Linked DNA regions of Homo sapiens. The protein of the gene in region 3 binds, or shares a complex with, the protein of the main gene of each other region. Each region holds a gene or a part of one and is shown on either strand. Other genes may lie near its edges. The genes, in order: RGMB, BMPR1A, BMP2 and NOG. A codon is read from its position in the direction of its gene.

Region 1 (6,628 bases), on a different chromosome or scaffold from region 3:
ATGTATGTTTATCCCAGTCAGAATCTGATCCATTTAGTATTCTACCTAATACAAGTAACAGTGCTTCTCTGTGCCTTTTGTTTCAGTTATTTTCCTAACTTTTCTACCCTTTGGTGTGTTTCTTGAACAAAGACCAACTTGTGATCTCTTGATGTCTCTTTTTAAAACCCAAGAAGTGAGGATTTGTTTTCAAAGCCAGAAAATCCTGCCTTCCCAAATCCTCCCCACCAGGAGGAAGTCGTTACTGTTCACATCACCTTAAAAAGAACTAGAGTGCAGGCTGTATGTCTTCAAGGGACCAAAACTGTTACTAAAGACAGAACTTTGGGACAATACTAGTGGACCAATCTCACTGATACGGATTTGTAACTGCTTAAAATTTCAAAAGAAAAAAAATGACAGTAATGCTATAGTTTTGAAAATCAGCGAATTTGTGGGCAGGTGGCATGACTTATCAGTAACCTTTAGGGATTTTATACAATTCCCCCTCCCCCGACTCCCTTTCTTCTGCAGCTCTCAGTTCTTCCAGCAGGTGTCCCTATAATCACAGAACAGACATTCCACAGCAAGGTATGTAACTTTATTTTTCTAGCATAATAATTTAAAGTATTTACACACTGCACACTCACTGTTTTACACAGATACGTATTCATATATCTATGAACCACATCTAAAGGTTTCTTTGCAAAGACTCGACACACTGTTGGGGGGGGGGGAGCTTCCAAGCATAACAAAGAGGACAAAAAAAAGTTTTGAGTCTTTTAAAGACAGCCATGTGGAGCATCTGTGAAAACCAGTGTTTCCCCCGTTTTAAGCTCCCCCAGGAGACCTCTGAACAGCTATAGCCTATCCACATGTTGGTATGACCTGAAATTCTTCTAGCTAAGGTTTCAAGAACCAACATGTGCAAGCAGCATTTTTTCTAGAAATCTCAAAAAAGGAGAAAATAAACCTGGCCCTTACGTAGAGAAATACATCTATTTCTGAAAGTAATCTGTGGGGATTGTTTTACAGGGACACCGATTACAAGGGCAGAATAGCAAAATACACTATTACTAGTGATGCAGGGTGCTTTTAAATGTCACTTCCAGCTAAATGATATGGCAAAATAACCCAATCTTCTTTTCCCAACTATCAGTAAGGGTGGTTGTTATTTTCCCTGAAAAGAGCAAAGGTATATTTATTAATGATACACACTCTAAACCCAGATCCTATAGAAATTTCTTCTATTGCTTTTACTTCACTTTCATATTATTTGCACAAAAATAGTGGTTATCCTCCGTATTTTTTCCTCGCTTGTACTACTCAATTATAAAACAAATTATTAACGATAGCTTCTGAATTTGGTACATGGCATCATAGGTGAACAAAAAAAGCCACAGTTCAGAGCTGATGGTCAGTCCGTCTCTAGTCCAGCTTCTATAAAAGGAAGGCGGGTTTAGGTTTCAACTCTCTATAGTTGAATCTCCATGAGTAAGAAGGAGATGCCTTCCTTATTTTCCCAGACTGCCCAAGATTATTCTCTCATCAACACAAGGTAGAGGTTTGCCACCTCTACATGAATTCACAACTCCACTCTGTGACTGGGTGGCACATCAGTTCGCTAAGAAGTTAAACTTTACAAAATGACGTCCTCTTCCTCTTGCCGGTATGGGCCTCTGGCAGTGTCACTGATCAATAGGACATGGCAAAAGTAACTACCTGGAGAACTAAAACTAAGCATAATCTTGGCCTGAACTACTACGGTAAAGATAGTATCTTTTATTTCTGTTTATGTAAACTTATCAACAAATTATTAAAGCAGAAACTCTATCACTTCTTGGAACTAAAGATTTACATCTAGCTATAACAATAGAAACCTACCTATCCTGGAGTTAACTTTCTCAGATTACTGCTCCTGACTTTTGCTGTTCTTTTCCTTTTGCAAGGGGGTGCCAACAATGGATGGAAGAGGCAAGGAGATCTTACTTTATAGGAATTTCTCCAAGTTACAACGAGCAACTGACCAAATCATATTCAACTACAGGTGTTGAGAGAGAGAGTACCTGACTTCAGACCACCTGGGAAGCACAATGCTTAGTTAACAAGAATATCTGGATTAAGCAGTGCCGAAGTGGCCGCACACCGAGTCAGGCCAAGGAAGCTCTTCTGTCATTGCCGCCCAACTCTGTTCCACTTTGCATGCAGACATATCAAAGACTGTGATGAAGATCATGGTGGACAAGGAAGAATGAAAAACTTTGTGATGGGATCTGGGCCTCTACATTAGAGAAAGAACCTAACAAACCCCAGTTCTTTGGATTCGTAAGGTGAGGCTGAGGAGGGCTTACTGGAGTTGGAGACAGGGAGAGCTGTGTTTCTGGGCTCAAAGCCAAGAAACGGTTAAGAAGAGGGGCTTGCATCAGTCATATAGATTAAAAAGAGCAAGGCATGATAATTACTAAATTTATAGTTTCATGTTTTAACACAGAAGAGTCAGAGGGAAAACTGACAATTTAAAACGGGGCATGGGATGAGAAAAAGTCTAGGAGTTACTGAGATGCCTGGTACTTATCTACAAAACTTCCATCACTAGACCCTTTTGACCTACGAGAATAGCAGTTTCTATGGTTCAACCTAATACACTGTATGGGCTCAAATATATAACAATTAGAATTGAGAGTAATCAGAATACCAATAATACCCCCCCTTCTGAAAAAGTAACAGCTCTTAGATGAAGAGAGCTTCTTAAGATCAGCGTTTAAGAGTCAAAGCACCTGTAAGGGAGAGTTAACGACCCTTTCAAATCAAGTGAGGGCAGAAGGGTGAGGGCATAGTTCAAAGGAACGAGGCAGCTCCACCGGAAGGTGGCGAGTAAAAGCTGCACACCGTGGCAAATCAGTAGCAATGGGAAAGGGCAGGAAGGTACAGCCAAGAATAGCTACAAACAACTGGTCACCTTCAAAGGAAACGCTGCATATGGATGTCTGTGTATATGTACTATACATATCAACCAAGCACACACATAAATATTTAATATATAAAAAATAAAGTGCTTTCTAACAGGTCCCTGGGCAGGGACATTATAAAACATTTCACAGAACTGCAAAACAAAATTGATACAATCAAAGAACACTACATCCAACATATGTGAAAACAGCCAAACACAGTATGTACAATCTGGTGGGTGTCCCAGGACAAACATCCTGTCATATACATGGTATATACATATATACTCTTTTACTCAATATATTATGACAATATATATTTTAAAATTTTGTTATAGACAAAAAATAAAAAACCAAAACAAAAGACAACCCCTACAAAAACACGATAAGGATCAAGCAGGTGAGTCCTAGACTGACAGACAAATCACTGCCTCCACGGGGAGTCCCATTGCCACTGCTGGGGAAAATGTGCCAGCGTTCCTTCCTTGGGTGCAGGGCCTCCACATCCTCCAAGGCACTGTGGGCTGCGGCAGTAAAGTTGGCATCACCAGTGGTGAGCAGGTCGAAGACACAGGACTGGAAATAGATGTCCTTCACTGGCATCTTCTCATGGCATTGAGTGTTGGCAGTCTCCAGTGTGTAGCCAGGCCAGGCCTGCACCAAGGAGGTGCGAGGCAGGCTGTGTCCCAGGATGGCAGACACCTGGCCCTGCCCGTCATCGATGCGTTCACTCAGGGGGCAGCCGTTCACGCACAGCTGCAGGTCCTGGCTCTCCTCGTAGGACATGGCCAGGTCTTCAGGCATACGGATGGCAAGGGTCAGGTAGCGACCCACCTGCCGCACAAACACTGTGGTCCCTATATAGCGGGCGTGCATCTCCACATAGTGGCCACTCTCCCTTTCCACGATACGCAGGCTCTTGGCATCGCTGTCCCCACCACTGGTGGTGCCATCCACAAAGGCGGCCGGCAGGTCATCTGTCACAGCTTGGTAGACTTTCTGATCTGTACACTCATGGTGGGCTTTGAAGATAATAGTGATCTGTGGGAAGGAGCATGTACAAGGTTTAACAGAATGGGAAGGAAGCAGAACGGGGTAACCCTCTGTAGCAAGAGCTCCCCGCCATTTTGAAGCTGAATGGCTTAAGGCGGAATCTCCAAAATGGACCCAACTGCTTGCACCTCAAAAATGGATATCACTTTCAGAAAATATTTTTTAAAGTCCTATATATTTAGAACTAAAGTTTAAATAAATCTGTGCATCAAGACAAAACTTTTTTACTTTCCTAAGAGAAAGAGTGAGCAAGTGAGCAGTGTTGCTATCAGAATATCGGTTTTTTTTTTTTTTTTTTTTTAAGTGACAGGGTCAGCTCTCTTGCCCAGGCTAGAGTGCGGTGGCACATTCATAGCTCACTGCAACGTTCAACTCCTGGGCTCAAAGGACTTTCCCACTTCAGCCTCCTGAGTACACAGGACTAAGGGCATATACCACCATGCGTGGCTGATTTAAAAAACTTTGAAGTGAGGGGGTTGGTGGGGGGCGGGGGGGATGGTGGAGGTCGGGGGTTCCTCACTACGTTGCCCAGGCTGGTCTTGAACTCCTGGCCTCAAGCGATCCTCCCACCATCATCTCCCAAAGTGCTGGGATTACAGGCATGAGCCACTGTGCCAGGCCAGATTATGGGCAATTTTTATTGATAATTTATATCTTGTCTGCTTCCAAAGTGGATGAGTCATGGCATAGTTCTGAGAAAAGAAAAAGGCTCGTTTCTGAGTTATTATGCAGAAACTTTAAAGGGCTTAATTAACAATATACCTAACAGAACTTTGCTTCCTACCAAGATTCTTCATAGGATTAAAAAACTGTATCCCATGACTCACCACTACAAACTTACTCGAAATACAGAGAGAAAGAGTTGAGGAGGGGGCACCCCAGTAACAGCCACCACTCATGTACCCCAGGAAAGATTTCTATTAGTCCCTTAATCAAATGTTTCACATCACTGGCTAATCCCTGCGACAGGGAAATCACCTGGCAAATATAGCTCCTAAGCACTGGCAGAGACTGAATACCCTAAACCTAGTTACAGCAAATGTTTTCCCAAACAGCACCAGAGTCCCTTAACTCCTCAGAAATCTTTTCCCAGCCAACTCTCGATTCTCCAAACTAAGCACATAAATTCATCAAAGAAAAAAAATTACTAATAATACAAAAGCTTCTCTTTTGTAAACCCATGTTCTTTCCTGCAGAATCCTTTAATTAGAACAGTTAGTTAAAAACCTTGCACACCTTCACCTCCAACATATCCAACATCTCTGGTACAGGTGGTGGAGGGAAGACAACTATGATAAGACAGGGGCTGCTGTGTCACACAACATGGAGAAACTATTTCAAAGAAACAAAAAAAGACCAGATTTTGAGAATTGTATCATTGCTAGTAACTGAGGCAACAGGGTTCTCTCTTCCTTCTTGAAAAAACAAAAAGTATCAGGTGACTTCAGTCAGGAGGAAGGTAGACAAGCCAAACACTCTATGAATTACTCGGGATGGAGGAAACCTTCTACCTCCTGCAAGGAAACTAATCGAAACAATAGACCCTTGTGAAAAAGACCAGAAAATGCACCCCCCTCCCCCCGCCTGCCCACCCGAAGTCCTCACCACCACCCTCAAGTTTATGTCTTAAGTTTTTCTCCAACTCGGCCAGCATTTGCTCACACTATTTAATTCCACTTGTTCCCACTGGTGTTACTTGACTGGAATTTTCCAGCCATTTCATTTTACTTCAGCCAGTTATAAAGCCAGATCTGAACCAGCTGCACTGTAGCAACCGGTTAAATTCATATCCGCTGTGTGCAGCTGCAACTAAAAGCCAGACAATGTACTATGAAAATGCTGGGTTTTCTCCCTTCCTAATTACCCTGAGCCACAACTTGATTTCACTACCAGCCTTCTCACATTTCAACACCTTCTTAACAACCCAAAGGAGGTGCATCAGAGATGATTTCAGGAAATTTGTTGTGCATCCAACCATAGGACCTTTCAGAGTGAATGGGGGTTTTGAGCTAGATATCTAACGGGACCATAAAATAGATTTATTTGGTGGCTCTAAAATCCGTTGACAAGTGTTTTTTTTTAAGGCATGCTGGGATCCCTTGGAGATGAAAAGATTGATTCAAGAAAATTTTGCACCTGAAAAAGTTGAAAGTCAACAATACAGATGGCTAAAATAAGAGTTAGTAATAGACTTTTTATATAATCACTATGCTCATTTTCACCTGTAACATCTACTCAAAGATTAAACTCTTCAATGACGGCTAAATAATTCGTCTTTCTAGTCTAACAAACCTAAAATTTAAACCAACTTGATATTATCTGCAAGAACTACTTTTTTGTTCACCTTAGGAAAAACAAAGAGGATTTACTTGTGTTGGGCCAACAAAGCAAAGATAACCGATTCCAAACAAGTTTCCAAAAAGCAAGCAAGGGTCCATATTGAGATGAGTGGAATGGTTCCATATGTCTCACCACGGCTGTTTTTTTCATTAAGCACACCAATTCCAACTCAGGAACTCAGGATTCATTTCAAACACCTCCCACAGTATTGTCCTCTGCTATGCCAGTGACATTAACAATAACTCCTACCTATCTAGAAGCTCAAAACTTGTTTTCTGCTCTAGTATCTACACCTACAAAATATCCTA
Region 2 (7,296 bases), on a different chromosome or scaffold from region 3:
CACAGTTGTAGACATGCCACCTTTTCCCTAGTTCTTGCTTCCTTGTACTTGACTTTCCTTCTGCTGATGTCTTCCTGGTTTCTATTTAATTAATGATGCAGACTGTTGTTGCAGAATTCATTAGGCTACCATTGCTGATTATCTCATATGTATAGTGCATCAGTAGCCCATTGGTCTCACCAACCGTTTGCCATCTGAGTTCTGTTGTAGACATTCTATCTTAAGGTTGCGGCAGAGGGCATTTATTTGCTGTAGAAAAAGGAAGCCAATAAATTATTGGGAAAATATGAAAAATTACTTAGCCAGGAATAAAAATCTAGTAAAATCATTGATGCCAAAAATTGCTGTTGATGACAAGGACCTGTAAATGTGCCTGTGTATGGTCATGTGTCTCTTGTAACTGTTTGTCTCTTTGTATGTATATGTTTTCATTTTTTCCTGAGATGTTATACTTAAACATGTAAGCTATTAAATATTTTGTGTGTGTTTGTTTTGAAATATAACCTATACCCCCAGTCCACCCCAGGGCTCGTAGTTTATTCTTTGTAAATACACGGGACTTGTGGGTGGCGAGAGATTGACATGTTCAGAACTGACAGAAGGCCATGTGCCAAGTAAAGTGATGATGGTGAGGCCTGCAGGACCCAGATCCTGTTGGGCCCTGGGAGCACACAGTGGAGGTTGGATTTTATTCTGAGTGCATTGTGGAGCCATTGATTGGTTTTATATAGGAGTGACAGATTTGTGTTTATAAAATGTCTCTGGCTGCTCTGTGGAAAATGGATTGCAGGGACCAAGAGCAGAAGCAGAGGGAACAGTTGGAGACTTCTTACCTTAGTAGAGGCATGATGTGATGGGCCTTGGTGACAACAGCGGAGTTGGAGAAAAATGAAAACAATTGACATACATTTTGGAGGTTGAGCCAAAAGACTTTGGTAAGACCAGGTTTGAGGCAAATCAAGAGTTCATTTAAGACAAGTCAGTCAGGAGATGTCTAAGCAGGTCATGGCTAGAGGGGGTACATCCAGGAACCATCAACAGAGTGGGCGCTGTCCCCTAGGGAGAGCACAGAGAGGCTCTTTCCTGTTACTTTTCTTTGTATTCAATATCTGCTTGGTGAAATCTTGCAAGTTTTTAAGATGTAGCTTAGATTTCATTACTTTTGACACCTAAGATCAGTTTGAGTTTGACACCTAGGATGAGCCTTTTCCTTTGTTTACATGTAAACACCTCCGTATTTTGTCACTTTTTTTTTTTTTTTTTTTTGAGATGGATTTTCGCTCTTGTCGCCCAGGCTGAAGTGCAATGGCTTGATCTCTGTTCACTGCAACCTCCACCTCCCAGGTCAAGTGATTGTCCTGCCTCAGCCACCTGAATACTGGGATTACAGGCGCCTTGCCACCACGCCCAGCTAATTTTTTAATATTTTTAGTAGAGACGGGGTTTCACCATGTTGACCAGGCTGGTCTTGAACTCCTGACCTCAGGTGATGTGCCCACTTTGGCCTCCCAAAGTGCTGGGATTACAGGCGTGAGCCACCGCGCCTGGCCTTTGTATTTTGTCACTTTTCACATTGTATTTATTTGCTTTTGTGCTTATTCCCCCTCTGCTTTCCACCAAGTTTCTCAAGGCCACATATGTGGTTTTGATGCCACATCTTTGCGTTTCTAGCATTTAATACCTTGCCTGCACATAATAGACCCCTACTAAGTATTCTGTTGAATATTTGGCAATAACATAAGCTCCAGATACAACTACTGTAATTGAGTTTTTTGTCTCATGAATTCAAATAGTATTCTAGGAAGTTTCATATAACTTTGAGTTTTTTCATGTATCAGTGATCTTTTAGTGTTCTGATCTTTGTTATTAGTAACATCTTCATTTGTATACTATTTTACATGTAGTTAAGCACTTTAGTAAATATTCATTTGATCTACCTATAACCTCTTGATTTGAATTAGGCAGGAATTATTATCCCCATTTTCTATAGATAGCTGAGGTTCAGAGAGTAACTTATCTGTGCCCGTAACTGCGACTTGAACCCTTCACTTCTTGCTGTTATCTCAAGTGATATTTCTGCCACACTAAACTGCTTTTTCTGTGTCACTAGATTTTTGAAAAATCAGTTGCTGTGATATATTATATACTGTTTGTTTTCCAGAGCTGAATTGATACGTGTCTTCTGTTAATGTAATAGGATTTTAAAGCTGGTCAGGTTCCCTCACCTGTCCTCTAGTCCTGTAGCCTTATAGAGTAAATGAAGCCTGGAAAGGTGACATGGCTTGCCCAAGACCATCCAGCTAGGTAAAGCGGGGTAGGCCCATGGCAAAACAGAATCCCAGTCTCCTCATTTCCTGCTCAGTGGATTTCTTCCCTTCCTGTACCTCCTGCTTCCCCCACCCCATCTTTTACAGTTGATGTTTCTAACATAAAGGAGGTCTTTCCGCTTTGTAGCAATCAGATCCAACGGAAGCCTTGACATTATATTACGGAATTTATTTCTGAAAGGAGAGTGGTGTGGGGGGCGCGGGGATGAGTAATATATGTATGTACACAAACTTCCAGCTTTTTTTTTTTTTTTTTAAGTGTTTTCTCTCCTGGCCGGGCACGGTGGCTCATGCCTGTAATCCCAGCACTTTGGGAGACTGAGGCAAGTGGATCACTTGAGGTCAGGAGTTTGAGACCAGCCTGGCCAACATGGTGAAACCCTGTCTCTACCAACAAAATACAAAAAAATTAGCTAGGCGTTGTGTGGGGTGCCTGTAATCCCAGCTACTCGGGAGTCTGAGGCAGGAGAATTGCTTGAACCTGGGAGGCGGAGGTTGCAGTGAGTCGAGATTGCACCAGTGCACTCCAGCTTGGGTGACAGAGTGAGACTCTATCTCAAATAAAAATGTTCTCTATACTCATTCAGTAGCAAATTCTTTTACTAAATATTCGGTATAAGAAAGTGAAGGTTATTGGCCAGGCATAGTGGCTCACGGCTATATTCCCAGCACTTCGGGAGGCTGAGGCGGGAGGATCGCTTGAGCCCAGGAGTTCAAGACCAACCTGAGCAGTATAGGGAGACCTTGTCCCTACAAAGAATTTAAAAATTAGCCGGGCATGGTGGCATGTGCCCTTGGTCCCAGCTACTCCAGAGGCTGAGGTGGGAGGATCACTTGAGCCTGGGAGGTTGAGGCTGCAGTGAGCTCTGATCACATCACTGTACTCCAGCCTGGGCAATAGCGTGAGACCATGTCTCAAAAAAAAAAAAAAAAAAAGTGAAAATTATTGAAACTGAAGGCATGTAATCATCAAAACACTATTTAGCAGCACTTTTTCTGTTACCTGTGTGTGCATATGTGATATTTTTTGTCTTTTCAGTAGTTTATCTCATCAGTATGGTAAATGTAAAATCAAGTCTGTGTTGTGTCTTGAACCACTTATTTAACATTCATAATGAAATACATATACACTTGTCTGTTTGGTTCCACCTTTCATTCCCTTGAGAGTAACCCACAAAGAATGGCCTAGCTGAGTCAGAGAGAGGAAGTAATTACTAGAACAGTTTTTTTAGTTCCGTTCTGCTTCCAGCCTGAAAGATTTAGTACCAAATATGACAGTATCTGTCACTGCAGGCTGCTAGACTCTAGTGTAAGAACATAGTTCTATTTCTGTGAGCTAACTGCTGCCCTTCTATAACCTTCAGTTTCTGCCAGCATCGTCTGCATTCAAACCAATGACCTCGAGGTGAAAATCTCCAGATAACATGATTGGTCCCCATGCTCTCATGATTTCCTTACTTAAGCAATTAAAGGCCAAAGCAAGATGCTTAGTAACTCCTTTTCCACATAGAGGCACAAATAAAGGAAAGCTGGTCACAAGTTTTGAACCAAAGAGTTAAAAGAAGAATCATAACTTGTCTCTATTTAATGATTGGAAACTCTCACAGACTTCTGTGAAGTCTCTCCCCCTTTTGTACCTTTCTTACAAGTGATGACTATATACTTTTACCTGGCAGGGGAGAGACCACGGTCACGAAGGTGGTTTTCCCAGGGCGAGGCTTATTCATTGCACTCCAGATGTGCTGACCCCTGCGATTTCCCCAAATGTGGGAAACTCAACTGCATAATTGTGGTGGTGGGGGACTGCGTTCATGCTTTTCCCTGGTTAAATTAAAAAATTTTTAAGTTATTTTAAAAATATAAAAAACAAGATTTGACTGTATTCTGCCTTGCGCCACTCTTGTTTGTCTTTCACTAGTGCAAAAATTGTGATATAGCTGTCTTCATGTACCCCGCAATACCTGGTGCAGTAATTCTGTGCATAATAATGTATGTCTGTTTGTTGTATGAATGAAATTTATATTTCTAAAGAAACATGCTAGCTACAATTATTGTGATAAGAAAGCTTAACAACTTTTTCTCATTGAAAATTGTCACGAAACAATGAGCTTTTCAGAAATGATTTACTTACAAATTCCATATTTGAATGCAGGACAGAATCTGGATAGTATGCTTCATGGCACTGGGATGAAATCAGACTCCGACCAGAAAAAGTCAGAAAATGGAGTAACCTTAGCACCAGAGGATACCTTGCCTTTTTTAAAGTGCTATTGCTCAGGGCACTGTCCAGATGATGCTATTAATAACACATGCATGTAAGTATTTTATGCAGCCCTTCTTAAGAGTTAGGAGAATAGAGTTGCATTTAGTGCTATTTTAAGAATTATTAAACTTGTCTGCGGTTTTTTTTTCATTCATATATAGTATCTTTCCAGAAAGCCAAAAAGCCTTTTGTTTTGTATATTAGAACATTATTCCATTAAATGATTGATAGGTGAGTTACTATATTAGAATTATGTTATAATGCAGCTTTTAAAATAAGATCAAAGGGATCTAGTATTTAACATCTGAGTTTTTAATGATCTTTTAATCTTAAATTTATTGATGCTCATTTTAGAAAACTTAGAGGTTACCAAAAAAGAAATCAGAAAACTCACTGACAACCTCCTACTTCTTTTTAATTTAAAAAAAAATTTTTTTTTTAACTATAGACAGGATCTTGCTATGTTGCCCAGGCTGGTCTCAAACTCCTGGGCTCAAGCAGTCCTTCCACCTCAGCCTCCCAAAGTGCTGGGATTACTAGGGTGAGCTGCCACACCTGGCCTCCTACTTCTTAATTAGTTGAAATATTTTGCAGATATATATAAATCATATTGTGTTAATTAATTTTATGCTTTTTTCTTACCTGTGAATTTACCAATCCAAATCTGATTTATAAAATGATTTTAATTTTTCTAGTGTATTTCGTGTTAGCTGCACAACATGTTTATATATGATCATGTAATTCTAGTCCATATTTGTTGGAAACATTGACATATTGACTTAATAAGACCAAAAAAAATTGCCTGAACAACTCAACCTCATCAGTCAATTAATTGTCTCCTTGTTATAGAGGCAATAATGAATGTCATGTTTTATACTTTTAATAATTGTATGTTCCCTGAATGGACCAGATAGAAAGCATGAAACTTTACACGTAAACTCTTGAACCTGCATGACGGTCATCGTGTCTTAGGTTTGCTGCTTGTCCCCTGGTGGTGGTGGGCTCTGCGTGGCTGACTGTGACTAGTTGTTCATTTTTACCTTGGTGAGAGTTTGCCAGCAGGGAACTGCTCTCTGCTATGTCACCAAATAATGTTTTGCTAAACTTCTTGTCTGTAGTACCTGCCTGATGTAATGGGCTGTCTGTTAGTAGCTTAGTAACCCAGAGTAAAACTGAATCATCCATTTTAACAGAATTCTGCCCCACACTTAACATTTTCTCCTAACAGAAAACCAAGAATTCTGCAAAATTCTTCTAAGTAGAAGCAGCACAATTCCTGATATTAACAATAAATAGGAGTACAGAAAAAGCTTTTAGAAATTTCTCCCATACCTGTTAAAGTCTATATGAATATATTAAGGGGAAACTCCAGGATGCTAACACTAAAATAAGAATTTCATTATATATGTATGTAAATTTATTGAAAATTTATTCAAAAGTCCTCTCCCTGTTTTCCCATCATATTCAGTAAAAGGTGCCTTTTAGTCCCCTTTTTTTTGGTCATTAAGCCTATTTGTATGTTTCAGAGAAAAGTTTGTTTTTATCTATTATCATATACAATATGGAAGTACTGAAAAAATGGGTAAAAAGAGACAAAGTTATTTTAAAGTATGTTTTCAAAACATGACATAAAATTTTATAAATCAGCTTTCTGTGATCACATGACTGATTAGCAAAGAGAAGTCACATAACTCCTATGTGGAGGACTTGTTTAATTGAAATCCTTTTCTTCTTGACAAAGGGTTGTCACTGGCCTTTTAGATCTTGGCTCAGACATAACTTTCATTTGTCTTAAAACCTCTGGCGTTGCCAATAAATCACGTGTGAATGCAATTCTAAGTCACAAAACAAAGTATTAAAGGCCATCTGTACCTGTTCACATTCAGACTCAAATTTCGTTAGTACTTTCTATGTGAATTTATGTTTTGTTTTGTTTTGTTTTTTTCTGTTTTAGAACTAATGGACATTGCTTTGCCATCATAGAAGAAGATGACCAGGGAGAAACCACATTAGCTTCAGGGTGTATGAAATATGAAGGATCTGATTTTCAGTGCAAAGTAAGATATAATTTGGGACCCATGAGACAAAGAAGGGAGGGGCCATATGAAAGCATCGATTTCCCCCAGGAGAAACATGCCTGGTGTACACATCGCTGTATGTTCACATCAGTAAATATATTGGAGGAATACCTACTGTCTAGATTCTGTCCTGTATTCATATGTAGAATTTATAACTAAATCATTTCTGAAAAGCTAATTGTTTGATTACAATTTCCTTTTTTATTTCCATAGACAGCACCTGGCTCTGTTGCCCAGGCTGGAGTGCAGTGCTGCGATCTCCGCTCACTGCAACCTCAAGCCAGCCTCCTGCCTCAGCCTTCTGAATAGCTGAGACTACAGGTGCATGCCACTATACCTGGCTAATTTTTGTATTTTTTGTAGAGACAAGGTTTTACCATGTTGCCCAGGCTGGTCTCAAACTCCTGGGCTCAAGCAGTCTGCCCGCATCGGCCCGCAAAGTGCTGGGATTACAGGTGTGAGCCACTGTGCCCAGCCTGATTACAGTTTTCTTTGTTCTCTACTTGGGAGGCTGAGGCAGAAGAATTGCTTGAGCCGGGGAGGCCAAGGTTGCAGTTAGCCGAGATCGTTCCACGGTACTGCAGCCTGGGCCACAGAGCAAGACCCTGTCTCAAAAAAAAAAAAAAAA
Region 3 (8,254 bases):
AATATGCCATCATTTCCCTACTGGGGCTCAGTCTAAAGAATAGTCTTAATTTCTAGTATAGTCTTATCCCTATCCAACCCCACCTCCAAATTTGAACTACCTCTTTGTACTCCTCAAAACAACATCCTACATTTTTTTCACATGATGTCTTGGCTTTGAGTTGTTACCACTGTATAGAATTGAGAGACCATAAGCATAGTGGGGAAAAAAGCCCCAAACTCCCAAAACATGAGTCTAGTGTAAGCTATGCCATTTGCTAGCCATGTGGCTTTGGAAAAATGACTTAACCTTTCCAAGCACAGTTTCTTCACCTGTAAAATAAGGGTAGTGACATTCACTGAGCAAGGTTTTTGTTCCACATTTCAGAAGTGAGTTGCTCTTCATTAAACCTGAAGCAATTGTTTCTCAACTCCCTTAAAGTTCTTATCTCATATGCCATATATTTTATATGTATTTACCCGTAAACATGTTGCATTTCTTCCATTGAATTCTAAGTAAATTATGTGCAGAGATTATGTACTTTTGTATTAACTGGAGCCCAATAACATAGTGCCGTGGGCTTTGTAGTTGCTCAATAAATATTTGTAGACTGTATGTAAAAGGAAATACTATAGTTGACTCTTCACAGTCTATTTAACAGAAAGTCAAAACATTTTAATATCATTGACAAGGTATGCAAATGTATTAGTATATGATAATTAAATAATATGTAGTGGATATTTAAAACAATCGTACTTGGCCAATTTGGCCTGGCTTAGGCTTTGCATATAAATTACCCCACTCCACTCATCCTTCCTATTATGTCTAATCAAATGCAAAATAGGTAAACATTTGAATGACTAAATGCTGCTCTTTTGCTGTGGCTCCCGGGGTTCCCATGAAAGAATTTCATGGAGGTAAAGTAATCAGAACCGGTATTGGGTGTTGCACTAGTAACAAAGTGTTACTCATGCTAAAAAGCCAACAGGCTTCTCAGGGGAGTCTTATTTTGAAGACTATAATCATTTTCCAGAAGCATGTGCTCATTCAACCCATATTTTTGAAATCTACCAAGTGCAAAAGAAAATCACATAAGATAAACTCACATCTTTCGAGAACCAGAACCGATGGCCTTAATTTGCATGTATATAGTAATACAAATTTGCAACCTTTTGTTGTCTTCACACATATCTTCTCATTTATTCTTCACAACCTCCATGAGAAGTCAACTGTTAGTCTCTATAGAGTATTCATGAGGGAGCCGAGGCTATGAGAATTTGTTACTGCCATAGATCAGAGGTCCCCAACCCCCGGGCCATGAATAGTACTTGTCCATGGCCTGTTAGGAACCCCCAGGGGCAGGTGAGGGAGCATTACTGCCTGAGCTCTGCCTCCTGTCAGATCAGCAGCAGCATTAGATTCTCATAGGAGCTCAAACCCTACTGTGAACTGCATGTATGAGGGATCTAGGTTGCATGCTCCTTATGAGAACCTAACTAATGCCTGACGATCTGACGTGGAACCGTTTCATCCTGAAACCATCACCCCCAACCTGGTCTGTAGAAAAATTTTCCTCCACAAAACTGGTCCCTGGTGCCAAAATGGTTGGGGACCTCTGCTTTAGATTGACTGACCCAACTGGTGGCCTTTCTGATGAAATATCCACTGTTTGGCAATATAATAAAAGCTGGGAGAAGAGAAGGAGAAGGAGGAGAAAGAGGAGGAGAAGAAAGGCATCCAAAGTCCTATTTCTTAAAACCAGGCCATATTGCAGACAGAAGGCCAAAGAATACATTTGAAGATACATAGAGTGAGTAGCAATCAGAAACTAAGTTCACACATGTTATCCATTTGACCTTCATCATGTCAGTCTGAAGCAAGCAAACATATATTTATTTACCCCAATTAACAGATGAAATGACCATTTTAAAGTCAGTCATCCATGACAGAACCAGGAATTAGAACCCAGGTCACCCAACTACATCTTAGAGTGTTATCAACATAGTTTACAGACATAACTTAAGGTGTACATCTTAAACTGTGTGACAGTCTAATCAATGCACAAAATTCATTCTTTTTAATTTTTAAGAAGATGTAGTTGGTACTTGCTGAAAGCAGTGATCCTGATTTGGCCAACTTGGCCTAGTTTCTGATATAAATCACTCCACCTCTCCCATCCTTTCTACCATGTCTAATCAAACACCAAAAAGGAAAACATTTGATTGACTAAATGCTTCTCTTTTGCCTTGGCTCCAAGTTCCTGTAAAAAAAACTTCATCCAGGTAAAGTAAGTAGGGATGGTTATGGGTGTCACCCTTGTAACAAAGCGATATGTATGCTAAAAAGCAAAGAGGGTTTCTCAGGGCAGTTGCCACAGGTTTCCATGGAATGACAATTACAAGGTAGATGGATCACGTAATGCCTGCTGTGAACTTTACAATACATGGGGATCACTATTTTAATGTTGATTTGCATAATGTTTGGCCTAGCAAGAACAATACTGAATGCTAATAGCTACAGAATGCAATAAAATGGAATATCATGTGAGCTGAAGTGCTAAAATTGCTAAAGTATGACTGTAAGCAGTTAATTTCATCCCGAGTCTTGTCCACACACAATCAAATGCAAATTTCCACTATCTCCTGAGAAACTGCCAAGAGATGACTGAAATGGAATAGCAACAACCTCCTTTATGTGGAATCATTATCTGGTCATCTTTGCTTTTTTACATAACTTGTCTGTACCCTCTGATGCATTTGAATTTGCAACTTCTACTATCCCTATCTTAAACAACTCCCCACTCCCACCTCTGCCCCTTCCACATTTGCTGGCAGATGCACTAAGTCTGATAAACTCAGCAAGACTGAATCTCACCCTCTGAACTGAAAAACTTTGAATGGACCTTTGAAAACGGTAGAATTGACAATGGTTAGCTGCAAGTGATATTTTCAAGGCAAACAGACACTCTCCCAAAGTATTAAATAACCCAGCATTCTAAGTTGCAGGTGGAAGGTAGCCATTAGTGAAGAGAGAGAAAAAAAAAAGAAATAGCTCGTCTGTATTTAGATTTATCATTTCTGACTATTGCTCTTCCCTGGAAAACGGGTAGGTACAGTCATCCTGTACTTCGATCCCAAATCAGTCTCTGGAGACTACTTATTTATTTATTTATTTATTTATGGACTTCTTTCTTTCAAGCGTTCGAACTCATTTCCACCACAAGAGGGCAGCCATCTCTAAAAAAAAAAAAATAGGGCCAAAATTTATGTAAGTTGTGCTTGGAACAAGCATTCAGTAGTTCCTCAGAAATCATACACCCTACATAAAAGAGATTCTGCAATGGGCAGCACTAACATGAAACAGTGTTCAGAAGTACCCATTTTCCCTCAGATTCTAAACTGACAAGGTTTCCACTTACCAGGTTATGAAGTTCTAAAGCTGCAAGACATCCTTGAGGTCATCACAGGATATTTATTTATTTTTTCTTCGGGTGCATCCAATAGTTATCAACTTTTCCTCCTCTTTAAAAGCTACTTAAATCTCATTGAAGTTTTGTTTTGTTTTGTTTTTGAAATCTAAGTAATGAGAGAAACAATTGTTAACTTCTCAATTAAACTTGATAGGAAAGGAAATAATTTCAGAAGCCCTGTGTCCATGAGTAGGATATGTTTTATTGCCTCCTTGTTTGCGGTGCAATGACTCTGAGTGACAATCAACTTCTATAGCACCTTTTTTTTTTTTTTCAGGAAATAAAGTAGCATGTTCCTGAATAATTCCCCCACCCCCTTTTATTTTCCTGGTAGTCAGGCTTCCTCCAAAATACCTTATTTGACCTTTATACCTTTAGAAACAGCAAGTGCCTAATTCGCCTCTGTGGGTTGCTAATCCGATTTACGTGAGCGGAACCTAGTATTATTTTAGCTCCCCTACCGAAAAAATAATACACATGGATAATAGTTCTATTACCAGCTCCTGCTTCTGACTTTTTTCTCTCTGTTTCGCAGGCCCGATAGCTCTGGGAAAGCAGAACTTGGCCTTTTCCAAAAATTTTCTGCCCTTGGTTTTGGGGATCATTTGGGCAAGCCCGAGGTGCTGTGCATGGGGGCTCCTGGAATCCTGGGAAGGGCAGAAAGCCTTGGCCCCAGACTCATCGTGCAGCAGCTCTGAGCAGTATTTCGGCTGAGGAGTGACTTCAGTGAATATTCAGCTGAGGAGTGACTTGGCCACGTGTCACAGCCCTACTTCTTGGGGGCCTGGTGGAAGAGGGTGGCGTAGAAGGTTCCAAGGTCCCAAACTGGAATTGTCCTGTATGCTTGGTTCACACAGTGCGTTATTTTACCTTCCTCTGAGCTGCTAATCGCCTGCCTCTGAGCTGGGTGAGATAAATATCACAAGGCACAAAGTGATTGTACAATAAAAAAATCAAATCCCTCCCATCCATCCTTCAGTCTGCCACACACGCAGTCTACGTTACACACATGTCACGTAAAGCAGGATGACATCCATGTCACATACATAGACATATTAACCGAAATGTGGCCCTTCGGTTGCATATATTCTCATACATGAATATATTTATAGAAATATATGCACATATTTTTGTATATTGGATATATTTATGTAACTATAAATTTACATGCGTATGGATATGAAAATAAATGCATACACATTTATGTAAAAAAATTTGTACACATGCATTTACATATGTAAATACATACATCTCTATGTATTAATGTTTAAAAACACTCAATTTCCAGCCTGCTGTTTTCTTTTAATTTTCCTCCTATTCCGGGGAAACAGAAGCGTGGATCCCACGTCTATGCTATGCCAAAATACGCTGTAATTGAGGTGTTTTGTTTTGTTTTGTTTTTTGAAATCGTATATTACCGAAAAACTTCAAACTGAAAGTTGAATAACGGGCCCAGCGGGGAAATAAGAGGCCAGACCCTGACCCTGCATTTGTCCTGGATTTCGCCTCCAGAGTCCCCGCGAGGGTCCGGCGCGCCAGCTGATCTCTCCTTTGAGAGCAGGGAGTGGAGGCGCGAGCGCCCCCCTTGGCGGCCGCGCGCCCCCGCCCTCCGCCCCACCCCGCCGCGGCTGCCCGGGCGCGCCGTCCACACCCCTGCGCGCAGCTCCCGCCCGCTCGGGGATCCCCGGCGAGCCGCGCCGCGAAGGGGGAGGTGTTCGGCCGCGGCCGGGAGGGAGCCGGCAGGCGGCGTCCCCTTTAAAAGCCGCGAGCGCCGCGCCACGGCGCCGCCGCCGCCGTCGCCGCCGCCGGAGTCCTCGCCCCGCCGCGCTGCGCCCGGCTCGCGCTGCGCTAGTCGCTCCGCTTCCCACACCCCGCCGGGGACTGGCAGCCGCCGCCGCACATCTGCCGCCACAGCCTCCGCCGGCTACCCGAACGTTCTCGGGGCCAGCGCCGAGTGGATCACCGGGGACCGCGAGGCACCCGCGCGCCGCAGACCCCGCGCGGGCTGGAGCACCCGGCAGAGCGCGCCACAGCGCCGTGGCCTCTGCTGCCCGGGCTGCGCCAGAGCCGCGGACGGGCGCGCAGAGCGCCGGGGACTCCGGAGCCGATCCCTAGCGCCGCGATGCGGAGCACCTACTGCAGGAGATCGGGGGCCTGGGACGCGCTGGCCGAGGTGTGATCGGACCCCAGGCTAGCCACAAAGGGCACTTGGCCCCAGGGCTAGGAGAGCGAGGGGAGAGCACAGCCACCCGCCTCGGCGGCCCGGGACTCGGCTCGACTCGCCGGAGAATGCGCCCGAGGACGACGGGGCGCCAGAGCCGCGGTGCTTTCAACTGGCGAGCGCGAATGGGGGTGCACTGGAGTAAGGCAGAGTGATGCGGGGGGGCAACTCGCCTGGCACCGAGATCGCCGCCGTGCCCTTCCCTGGACCCGGCGTCGCCCAGGATGGCTGCCCCGAGCCATGGGCCGCGGCGGAGCTAGCGCGGAGCGCCCGACCCTCGACCCCCGAGTCCCGGAGCCGGCCCCGCGCGGGGCCACGCGTCCCTCGGGCGCTGGTTCCTAAGGAGGACGACAGCACCAGCTTCTCCTTTCTCCCTTCCCTTCCCTGCCCCGCACTCCTCCCCCTGCTCGCTGTTGTTGTGTGTCAGCACTTGGCTGGGGACTTCTTGAACTTGCAGGGAGAATAACTTGCGCACCCCACTTTGCGCCGGTGCCTTTGCCCCAGCGGAGCCTGCTTCGCCATCTCCGAGCCCCACCGCCCCTCCACTCCTCGGCCTTGCCCGACACTGAGACGCTGTTCCCAGCGTGAAAAGAGAGACTGCGCGGCCGGCACCCGGGAGAAGGAGGAGGCAAAGAAAAGGAACGGACATTCGGTCCTTGCGCCAGGTCCTTTGACCAGAGTTTTTCCATGTGGACGCTCTTTCAATGGACGTGTCCCCGCGTGCTTCTTAGACGGACTGCGGTCTCCTAAAGGTAGAGGACGCGGGCCAGGGCCCGGGGTGGGTGGTGGGTGGGAGGGGGATTTGGGCAGCCACTGCGGTAGAGCCCTTCCTTACGTCCAGGCCAGAAGTAAACAGACCCCTCTCCAGTCCACGTGCAACGGAGCCCTGCAGGGGCTCCCACTTCCAGCTGCCCCGGGCGACCGTAAGCCTCACCCTCCCGGCCCGCACTCTTCCACCCCTCTTTCTTCCCCTCTCCCTGGAATACTTTTGGAGCTGTTAACACTTAGATGAGGTGTTTTATTTATTTATTTATTTATTTTTAATTTTTTTAAAAACTTTTTTGGGTCAAAGAAATCCCTTTGAGAGGGTAGCCCCTGGGTTTCACCCGTTAGCTGAGAACCTGTCCGCTCTGCCATGGTGATCTCCATTCTTCAAGTGTTTCCGGGAGACTTGGTTTCTTTGCTCAGAGCCGTGTCCCATTTAGGAAAGTACTAGGAGTTTGGGGTTCTCCCTACTTGTTTCCAGAAATGCGAGGGGTCAGTACTGAAGGATCACTTGGTACTGTGTTTTTAACAGCTGACACGTGCATTAATAGATATTCACCATTTACGTAATCCCGGGAAGATACATGTGTATCTTGACTGCACTGTGGGGATGCGGGATGGAGCTGCCTTTCGAGACACCCCTGAGGGTAGGGGCCTGGGACACAAGTCATAAGTGGCTTCAGAAGTTGTGGCCTTGAGCTTACAGGGTCTGGAAGCTATAAGGGTGTGTGTGTGTGTGTGTGTGTGTGTGTGTGTGTGTCAGGAAGTTCTATACAGTGCCTCTAAGGAAGTCACATGCACCATTTATGTGTGTTTATATGCCAGACAGCGCTCAGCACTCCGCATTTGGGTTTGTATAGGGGACGCAGGGTGTCAGATCAAGCGGTGGTTTTCCCAGGTTCCCGGCATTGGCTGTCAGCGCTGTGTCACACACAAAAAAGTGACAGTCATTGGCGCTGGTTTGGTTGGGGGGGAGGGCAAATCCCAAATCTGATGTCAGACGAGCTAAGCGTTGGATGGGAGCGATAAATCATCTGGTTCAGGAACTTGGGACCCTTCATTATCCCAAACGTTTGAGCTTCGGTCGGTCTTACCTAGACTCGTGAGTGTGCCAAGCCAGGAGGGCATCCTGGAGGAGGCACGCCAGCCAAATGGGAGACCGGGCCGCGGGGGCGCGAGGGGGGAGGACTGGGCGGGGAACTCGGGTGACTCACGTCGGTCCTGTCCGCAGGTCGACCATGGTGGCCGGGACCCGCTGTCTTCTAGCGTTGCTGCTTCCCCAGGTCCTCCTGGGCGGCGCGGCTGGCCTCGTTCCGGAGCTGGGCCGCAGGAAGTTCGCGGCGGCGTCGTCGGGCCGCCCCTCATCCCAGCCCTCTGACGAGGTCCTGAGCGAGTTCGAGTTGCGGCTGCTCAGCATGTTCGGCCTGAAACAGAGACCCACCCCCAGCAGGGACGCCGTGGTGCCCCCCTACATGCTAGACCTGTATCGCAGGCACTCAGGTCAGCCGGGCTCACCCGCCCCAGACCACCGGTTGGAGAGGGCAGCCAGCCGAGCCAACACTGTGCGCAGCTTCCACCATGAAGGTGAGGCATGGAGCAGGGCGTGGGGGCGGGGAGTCACCCTGCAAAGCCCTCCACCGTGGGCAGACTGCAGCCGTCCCTGTAGAGGCAGCTTGGCCGGGGCACCAGCGGACGTTTCCACTCTTGCTTCTGTACTATCGTTTCTGAATCTGATTTTAACTCACTGCTTGTGTGGTGGGGGAGCCAGGGATTCCCCTTTAGTAACTCCGCACCCTCTTCCTGGCTTGCAGCCAGAAGAG
Region 4 (6,980 bases), on a different chromosome or scaffold from region 3:
TCAGTTCGTACCACCGTAGCTTCCGGGCATGCAAAGGGTTAACATGGGCTGGATATTGAGGTGGGGGGTACGAGGCGGGAGGGGTGGCGGGATCTGGGTGGGCGCGCTCTGATCTCCCCCCCTCCCCATTCCTCGGGGGTCAAGTTTCAGCGGCACTCCGCCCCCAGGGTAGGTGTGAAAGACACGTGTCCCCATTGTGAAGGGCCTGTCAGGCAGGACAAAGCGGCCGCCCACCCTCCCCCCGCCCCTCGGCCCAGCCTGGGGTCAGCTCCAGGGGGCCGGCTGGGTGTCGAGGTCACTACAGGCCCGAGCTTTGGTGACATAGGGGGAAAAGCTAGGAGACTAGGCGGAGGCCACGTGATGTTTTAGTGAGGGGTTAGAGAATATCGCCCCCCCCCCCAACGCCCTCAAAAAACTAAGTCACCTCCATCATACCACAGGAGGGGAGTCCGAGGGGATGAGCCCCTTCCCCAACGGGGTAGGAGGCACAGCAGCATCCCCTACCCGCCCCCTCCCACGCCCTCCCACCCCCATCAATCACCAACACAGAAAATCAGTGTGGAGCGCAGTCGGTTTTAGTGGTTTTCTTTAATCCTGCTCTGCACTTCTTTCTCATTTACTACACGGGATATTATAAAGAATAAATAGCAGATACTCTTAATTTACAATGATTAGTCATTCCATTTGTTCTCTATATTTACAATAACTGTAAAATAACATTGAACTCTATAGCTTCTTCGAGGTCCAAGGAAAACCAAAACACTTTCCGAAGAATGGAAAATAGCTTTTAAAAAGTCCTCTACAAAAGTTCCCCCGTCTCTTTGTACTTCAAGAAAAAAATAACTTTTCCCCCCTGCTTCGCCATGCGAAGGGCACTGGAATATAAATAGCAGGTTAACATTATTAGCAACAACCAGAATAAGTCTCTCTTTTCTCTGTTCTTTTTTTTTTCTTTTGCTTACTTTTTTTTAAAAATACAGTAGAAGCCGGTAACTTTTAACGTATAATACTGACCTTTTAATAAGTAAATTAAAACTGGGACCGTATATACACACACATATACATTCCTACACAGTTAAACAGTGCATTACAGGAACCAGAAAGCTAGGTCTCTGTAGCCCAGAAAAAAAAAAAAAAAAAAAAAAAAAAGTTCATTGAAAACCCTCGCTAGAGGGTGGTGGAACTGGTTGGAGGCGGTGCAGGGGGCGTCGGTGGGGATCGATCAAGTGTCCGGGTGCGGGCAGGGGGCCCCCGAGTTCTAGCACGAGCACTTGCACTCGGAAATGATGGGGTACTGGATGGGAATCCAGCCGCAGCGCTGGCCCCCGCGCCGCTGACAGCGCCACCGCAGCACCGTGAGGTGCACGGACTTGGACGGCTTGCACACCATGCCCTCGGGCACGGAGCACGAGCGCTTACTGAAGCAGCTGCCCACCTTCACGTAGCGCGGCCAAAAGCGGCTGCCCAGGTCGTTCCACGCGTACAGCACGGGGCAGAATGTCTGCGACCACAGCCACATCTGTAACTTCCTCCGCAGCTTCTTGCTTAGGCGCTGCTTCTTGCCCTGGGCCAAGCCCTCGGAGAACTCTAGCCCTTTGATCTCGCTCGGCATGGCCCCCGACGGCCGCTGCCGCAGCAGCTGGTCCAGCTCCGCCAGGTCCTCCGCGCCCCCAGCTGCACCCCCGCCCCCGCCGGGCCGGTCCTCGGGGGGCGAGGTGGCCATGAAGCCTGGGTCGTAGTGGCCCCCGAGCAGCGAGCGCAGCAGCGTCTCGTTCAGATCCTTTTCCTTGGGGTCAAAGATAGGGTCTGGGTGTTCGATGAGGTCCACCAGGGGCAGGTTGTCGCTGGGTGCCGGGCGGATGTGGAGATAGTGCTGGCCGCCGGCCGGTGTCGCCCGCAGCCCCAGGACCACCACCAGGGCGTAGAGGGTGACCCCTAGGCTGGGGCAGCGCTCCATGCCTCTGGCGCGCGCCCGGGGCTGCTGCTTCGTCCCGCGTCCCCGGAGGAGAGCACGCCGAGCCCGCGGCGCCGCCGCGCTCCCCCGTCTCTCCGGAGGCGGCTCACCCGAGGCTGGGCAGGCGCAGGGCCGGCAGCATGAGCCGCCGGGAGAGCCCTTCGCGCAGCGCCGGCTCCCACCGGGGCGGAAGAAAGGCACACAAGTTGGCCGCAACTCCTCTCCCGGGTCTACTGGGGAAGGCGGCCGCGGCTGGGCATCCGAAATTACTCCAGGGCGACCGCGGGGCGCGGGAGGCGCCGGCTCCTCGCTGCCTTCCCGGGCCGGCGGCGGCGCAGGGCGCGTGGACGAGCCGCTCTCCCCTCCTCCTCTCGCTGCTCTTCGTCCGGCCGCTCTGTGCAAGCGCCGCTGGCTGAGCTGGTTCTAGGGGCACTTCCCTCCGCCTGCTCCGGGCTCCGCGGCCGGCTCTGCCCGGCGGACTCCAGCGGCGGCGGCGGCGGCGGCGTCCGCGCACGTTGGCACCGGTTTGTCTGTCTCGCAGGGTCCAAGCCTTTAAATTTCCTGCACTTTCAGCTCCATCACCATGGAAACCACTGACTCTCTCGGCGTTGCCCCCTCCCCCTTCTTCCCCCCAAACAACAACCCCACCCCCCACTTCTCCACCCCCGAGGAGCTGGAGCTGCACAGGCTCCGGGGGAAGCCGCCTGTACTCGCCGCGGAGGCGGCGGCGGCGGCTTCGGCAGCGCCCAGGGCTGTGCCCCGCCGGACCCAGATGCCCCGGGAAGCCGACAGTCCGGCTGCCCGCCGGAGCTCACAGGCGGCGGCGGCGGCGGCGGCAGCGGCGGTGGCGGCGGCGGTGGCGCTTGGCAGGTCTCCGCGCAATTTTCTCTCTCCCCCACCACCCACCCCCCTTCTCCTCCTCCTGCAAAATGCACCGCCCCCCTCCTTTCTCCTGGAGCAATGCAACTGGGGCTCTAGGCGCCCCGCCAGGGCCAGTCCTGGGGAAAGCTCGCGGCGGCGCTGGAGCCGGGCTGGAGGGTGCAGAGCCGGTGTTTGGGGAGGGGGGGCGGTGCTTGAGGTGGGGCTGGAGGGTTTCTCACTAGCTGGGTGCTTTGCACTGGGAGGGGAGCAGCGGGGAAGTGCTGGGGGCTCGTTTCTCGGTGCATGCAGTTCGGAGCAAGAAATTTCTCCATGTGCATGGAGCGTTTTCCCCGAGCGCGTCTTCTTCTCTCCCGGGCTCTTGCTCTAAGTCCCCTCCCCCCAACACACATATATACACACACACACACACACACACACACAGCCCCTACCCCACCCCCCTTTGCACCAGGGAGTCCGAGAGCCGCAGCGTTGCGCAGCGTGATGTAATTCTTAGGAAGCACTCCTGTCTGTCTGCCCCTCGGGCCCACGAGGGGGTTCCGCTCCTCACCATCCTCCTCCTCCTTGGCCGGGTCCTGCACCCTGAGTGGCCTAGCCTCAGGGGCGCGACTGGCTCGCCTGCGGCTCCCCTAGCCCGCCCGGCTCCGCGCGGCCGCCGCTCGGCTCCCTGGGGGCGGCGCGCCCTCTGCTGGCCCGCTATGAGCCCTGCACCTGGCGCTGGCGGGGGCGGCCGTGCGAGGTGGGTCGGCCGCTGCCCGCTCTGCCCAGTTCAGCTTCTGCTTCTGTGTCCCTGTCACTTTGTGTGTGTCTGCGTCTGCTGACTGGTCCGTTTTGGTTCTGGCTATTTTCCCGAAGGTCTCCAGGCCCCCAGTGTAAACAAACTTCCTGAGATTCCTTCTCGGTCCCCTCAAATTTCACAAGAATGCGTGCAGCACCTTCTGCCTCAGGTAAATCGGTCTCTGGTCTCAGTGGGTGCGAGTGGGGACCAGAAACTTGAAAGGTGAGCTGACAGCAGAGGCACCTGAGTCTTGCCCGGGGTCCACCCTGATATAACTCGGACAAGTCATTTTTCTCACTTTTCGCATTAGTGACGTAACTATTAATAGATTTCTCTTCCAGCCCTACCTTTCTGTGATTTTAAATAAACCTCCACGATGCTTTCTCTTGTTCAGAAGCAGTTTCTCTTTGATGGGAGATGGGTACTGAAGGGACACCTCCGGTTAATTTCCCCTTGGACGAGGAACTCAATCTCAGCTTTAAAATGCAAACTCAGTTTTCTTTGTGGTGAATGTGATTGGAATCTGGAAAAAGCTGGAGAAGAGAGACTTGGAGTGGATGACTCAAGTATTTGCCAGTCTTCCATGGAGTGGGAGTTAAGAGGTCCCATTGTGACAACCTAAATCGCTTAACTTTCTTTCCCCAAAGATCTGGTTTTTCCTTTCAACCTGCCCCACCCCAACTCCCAAAGTTTATCATCTGTCTAAGGAAGAAAACACTTTGTTGCATACTACAGTCTTTCTGCAAAACCTCTATTAAAAGGGGTGGGCAGTTTCCGCTGAAAGCGTTTCCCTCAATTTTAAAGTCTAGACAACTAGAATTAGACTATCAAGGGACTGCTCAAAAGGAGATCTTGCTTTGATGGATACTGGAGTTAACAACAACCCATTGGTTGTTTGAATTGGGCTGACTTTGAAATAATGTGTGATTAGAACCTGGTACAGGCCGGGCACGGTGGCTCATGCCTGTAATACCAGCACTTTGGGAGGCTGAGGCAGGCGGATCACTTGAGGTCAGGAGTTGGAAACCAGCCTGCCCAACATGCTGAAACCCTGTCTCTACTAAAAATACAAAAAAAAAAAAAAAAAAAAAAAATTAGCTGGGCGTGGTGGCAGGCTCCTGTAATCCCAAGTACTTGGGAGGCCGAGGCACGAGAATCACTTGAACCTGGGAGGCAAAGGTTGCAGTGAGTTGAGATTGCACCACTGTACTCCAGCCTGAATAACAGAGTGAGACTCTGTTCCCACCTCCCCAACTCCTCCCCCTCCAAAAAAAGAACCTAGCACATAGTAGGCTCCTAAGCATACCTCTTTCTTTTTTATGTGCTTTATGGGGATTCAGCACTAGTTTGTTTCCTTATGAAGATTACATGTTCCAGAGCAATTTTGTCACTGATGTGAATTAACTAAGAAAATTATTTAGTGGAGTTCAAGGGCTAAACTCTAGCTCAGCCCTCCTGAGATGGTAGGTTCCAATTAATGACATTATATCATGCTGGTTTCTGTTCTTTTAATCCCCCTCTTCTCTCCTTCAAATCACCTATTTTTGCTTGAAAACCAACCCAGATCCTTTATTTAGTTGGGCTGAGCAGATTTGACTGAACAGCAAAAAAGGTCCCTCAGGAACCAGAAACAAATCATGCTTGAGAACAGATTGGGTGACCTGTTTATGGAGTATCTACTGGGTGAAGACCATCAGGAAAAATACAAAGAAGAAAAAATTCATAGTCAGTCTCCATCCTGCAAGACTTTTGTAGTACAGTTAGGGGAGATATGACAACCACAAGAAGAAATAGTAAAAGGACATCAGAAAAATTTATAAATTCCCATAACAGTGTGGACTAGTTTTTTATAACCTTTTCTTTTTAAAATCCATGTCCCCTTTTGATAGATATAACAATATCATGCTCTTCTTTGAATGTTGTTTAAAGTTTTTAAAATACATTATTATAACCAAAAAGAAGCCCAAGCAATTATGTTAGCTATACTGTTTTCAAACCATATCTACCCCTCTTCAATGTGAAGTTCTGAAATGCCACATTTGGGAAGCTTGCAACTCCTAACTCTGTGCCACACTGGAGTAGCCCATGCGCTTAGGTACTGAGTGAACCTGGGGATGTTGGTATCAGAGACTAGGAAGTACTAAGACCTTAATGGTAGAGCTGAATTTTAGCTGAGCTTCATGAAGAAGGATGTATTTATCTGAGTATGGAGAGGAAGAGATTTGAGAGATAGGATATACATCTACATGAAGAAGGGAACCACACTTGTATGAGGGACAGCCAGAAAATCTGGGGATATGAGAGGTGGAAGAGGAAATGTCCCAGACAGGGAAGCACCACGACTTTTGGACCAGGTGGATTTAAGTTGGAATTCTGGCTGTGCCCCTCACCGGCTGTGTTACCTTTTTAAAACAGTCATCTTAACCACCCCGTTTCCATTCTCTCATCTGTAAGATGGGGATGATACACACCTCTCAGAATCATGCCACGTAAAAGAGGTAAGGAATGCCTAGCCTAGTAAGGTGCCTGGGGCAGAGCCTATATCGGGCAATGGTTTTACAACACGTTACTTCTTCAGAGAACCCCACTGCCCTCAACTGGCCAACCATCTCAGGTTTGAGCAGAAGAGGGTTGAAGGGGTGAGGATGCTGCTGAAATCAACTCCAACACCTTTGGACTTGCTTTCTGTCCACTCCATCTGTGCAACTTGAGGGCTGCCAGGCTTCAGGAGTTTGAGGGAGGGAGGACTGTAGTTTCTTAGGAGATTCTGTAGTCAACCCATTTTGATGCTTCTGTGGTTCTGTTGAAGAGGGAGCTTGACAAAACTGGACAAAGAGGGTTGTATTTCTTGCAAAGGAAGCTGTGGGCGGAAGATGGGCCAATGGAAGTACGGCTATCAGCTTGACTCTCGCTGTGGGCGGTGCTTGGACTGTAGTGGGGCTTGGTTGGGGACTTAGGCCTCAGGAGGCTACATAGGAAGAGTTAATGAACAACATAAATGGAGGCCTGTCCCTGGGTAGCCCCATCCCAGGTTTCTGTCCCTGCAAAATTCTCTGGGCAAGGTAAATGGAAGCACTCCTTTAAACAGTCGCTGGGGCAACTCCAGGTCAAAGGCAAGAGGAGCCTGAGGGTGCTTTTATGTATCTTCTCTTATTTCTATCATGATTCGAAGAACAACTTGACAATCTTCTTGCTTCTTTGGCCCTGGAAACATAGACCTAAGGCAACTGTGGGTGACGCCTAAAGGGCATGGGGCTTGAGGTCAGAAAACTTGCAATCTACCAGCTGTGCGACCTTGGGTGAGACACTCTACCTTTCAAGGACCATGAGACGTCCTTGGAGAATGCATGAGAACTGCCATCTTTTACA

The links.
Region 1: the proteins of BMP2 (region 3) and RGMB are in contact, whole or in part, in a crystal structure (PDB 4UI2), measured with the Homo sapiens proteins. Residues at the interface, in NP_001191.1 of Homo sapiens: Val308, Gly309, Trp310, Trp313, Met371, Tyr373, Leu374, Asp375, Glu376, Tyr385, Met388; in NP_001353437.1 of Homo sapiens: Lys97, Arg100, Gly101, Leu103, His106, Ser107, Leu110.
Region 2: the proteins of BMP2 (region 3) and BMPR1A are in contact, whole or in part, in a crystal structure (PDB 2QJ9), measured with the Homo sapiens proteins. Residues at the interface, in NP_001191.1 of Homo sapiens: Lys297, Pro330, Phe331, Pro332, Leu333, Ala334, Asp335, His336, Ser339, Asn341, Ile344, Val345, Leu348, Asn350, Ser351, Val352, Asn353, Ser354; in NP_001393490.1 of Homo sapiens: His66, Cys67, Pro68, Asp69, Ile77, Thr78, Asn79, Phe83, Ile85, Cys100, Met101, Lys102, Glu104, Gly105, Phe108, Gln109, Asp112, Arg120, Ile122.
Region 4: the proteins of BMP2 (region 3) and NOG are in contact, whole or in part, in a crystal structure (PDB 7AG0), measured with the Homo sapiens proteins. Residues at the interface, in NP_001191.1 of Homo sapiens: Trp310, Asp312, Trp313, Val315, Ala316, Pro317, Pro318, Gly319, Tyr320, Ala368, Ile369, Ser370, Met371, Leu372, Tyr373, Lys379, Val380, Val381, Leu382, Lys383, Asn384, Tyr385, Gln386, Met388; in NP_005441.1 of Homo sapiens: Ile33 (codon at 1,861), Arg34 (codon at 1,858), Pro35 (codon at 1,855), Ala36 (codon at 1,852), Pro37 (codon at 1,849), Ser38 (codon at 1,846), Asp39 (codon at 1,843), Asn40 (codon at 1,840), Pro42 (codon at 1,834), Leu43 (codon at 1,831), Val44 (codon at 1,828), Asp45 (codon at 1,825), Leu46 (codon at 1,822), Ile47 (codon at 1,819), His49 (codon at 1,813), His199 (codon at 1,363), Arg204 (codon at 1,348), Arg206 (codon at 1,342), Pro219 (codon at 1,303), Ile220 (codon at 1,300), Gln221 (codon at 1,297), Tyr222 (codon at 1,294), Pro223 (codon at 1,291).

The regions. Positions count from the first base shown.
Region 1 is NC_000005.10:98,790,425-98,797,052, reverse strand, and holds the end of RGMB (repulsive guidance molecule B isoform 1 precursor), read right to left. Parts: intron 3,969-6,628; coding exon 3,300-3,968; 3' UTR 559-3,299; downstream 1-558. UniProt on the Homo sapiens protein: Member of the repulsive guidance molecule (RGM) family that contributes to the patterning of the developing nervous system. Acts as a bone morphogenetic protein (BMP) coreceptor that potentiates BMP signaling. Promotes neuronal adhesion.
Region 2 is NC_000010.11:86,885,583-86,892,878, forward strand, and holds part of BMPR1A (bone morphogenetic protein receptor type-1A isoform 3 precursor), read left to right. Parts: intron 1-4,479; coding exon 4,480-4,642; intron 4,643-6,544; coding exon 6,545-6,647; intron 6,648-7,296. UniProt on the Homo sapiens protein: On ligand binding, forms a receptor complex consisting of two type II and two type I transmembrane serine/threonine kinases.
Region 3 is NC_000020.11:6,762,455-6,770,708, forward strand, and holds the start of BMP2 (bone morphogenetic protein 2 preproprotein), read left to right. Parts: upstream 1-5,231; 5' UTR 5,232-6,421; intron 6,422-7,665; 5' UTR 7,666-7,672; coding exon 7,673-8,018; intron 8,019-8,254. UniProt on the Homo sapiens protein: Growth factor of the TGF-beta superfamily that plays essential roles in many developmental processes, including cardiogenesis, neurogenesis, and osteogenesis. Induces cartilage and bone formation.
Region 4 is NC_000017.11:56,589,201-56,596,180, reverse strand, and holds NOG (noggin precursor), read right to left. Parts: upstream 2,483-6,980; 5' UTR 1,958-2,482; coding exon 1,259-1,957; 3' UTR 570-1,258; downstream 1-569. UniProt on the Homo sapiens protein: Inhibitor of bone morphogenetic proteins (BMP) signaling which is required for growth and patterning of the neural tube and somite. Essential for cartilage morphogenesis and joint formation.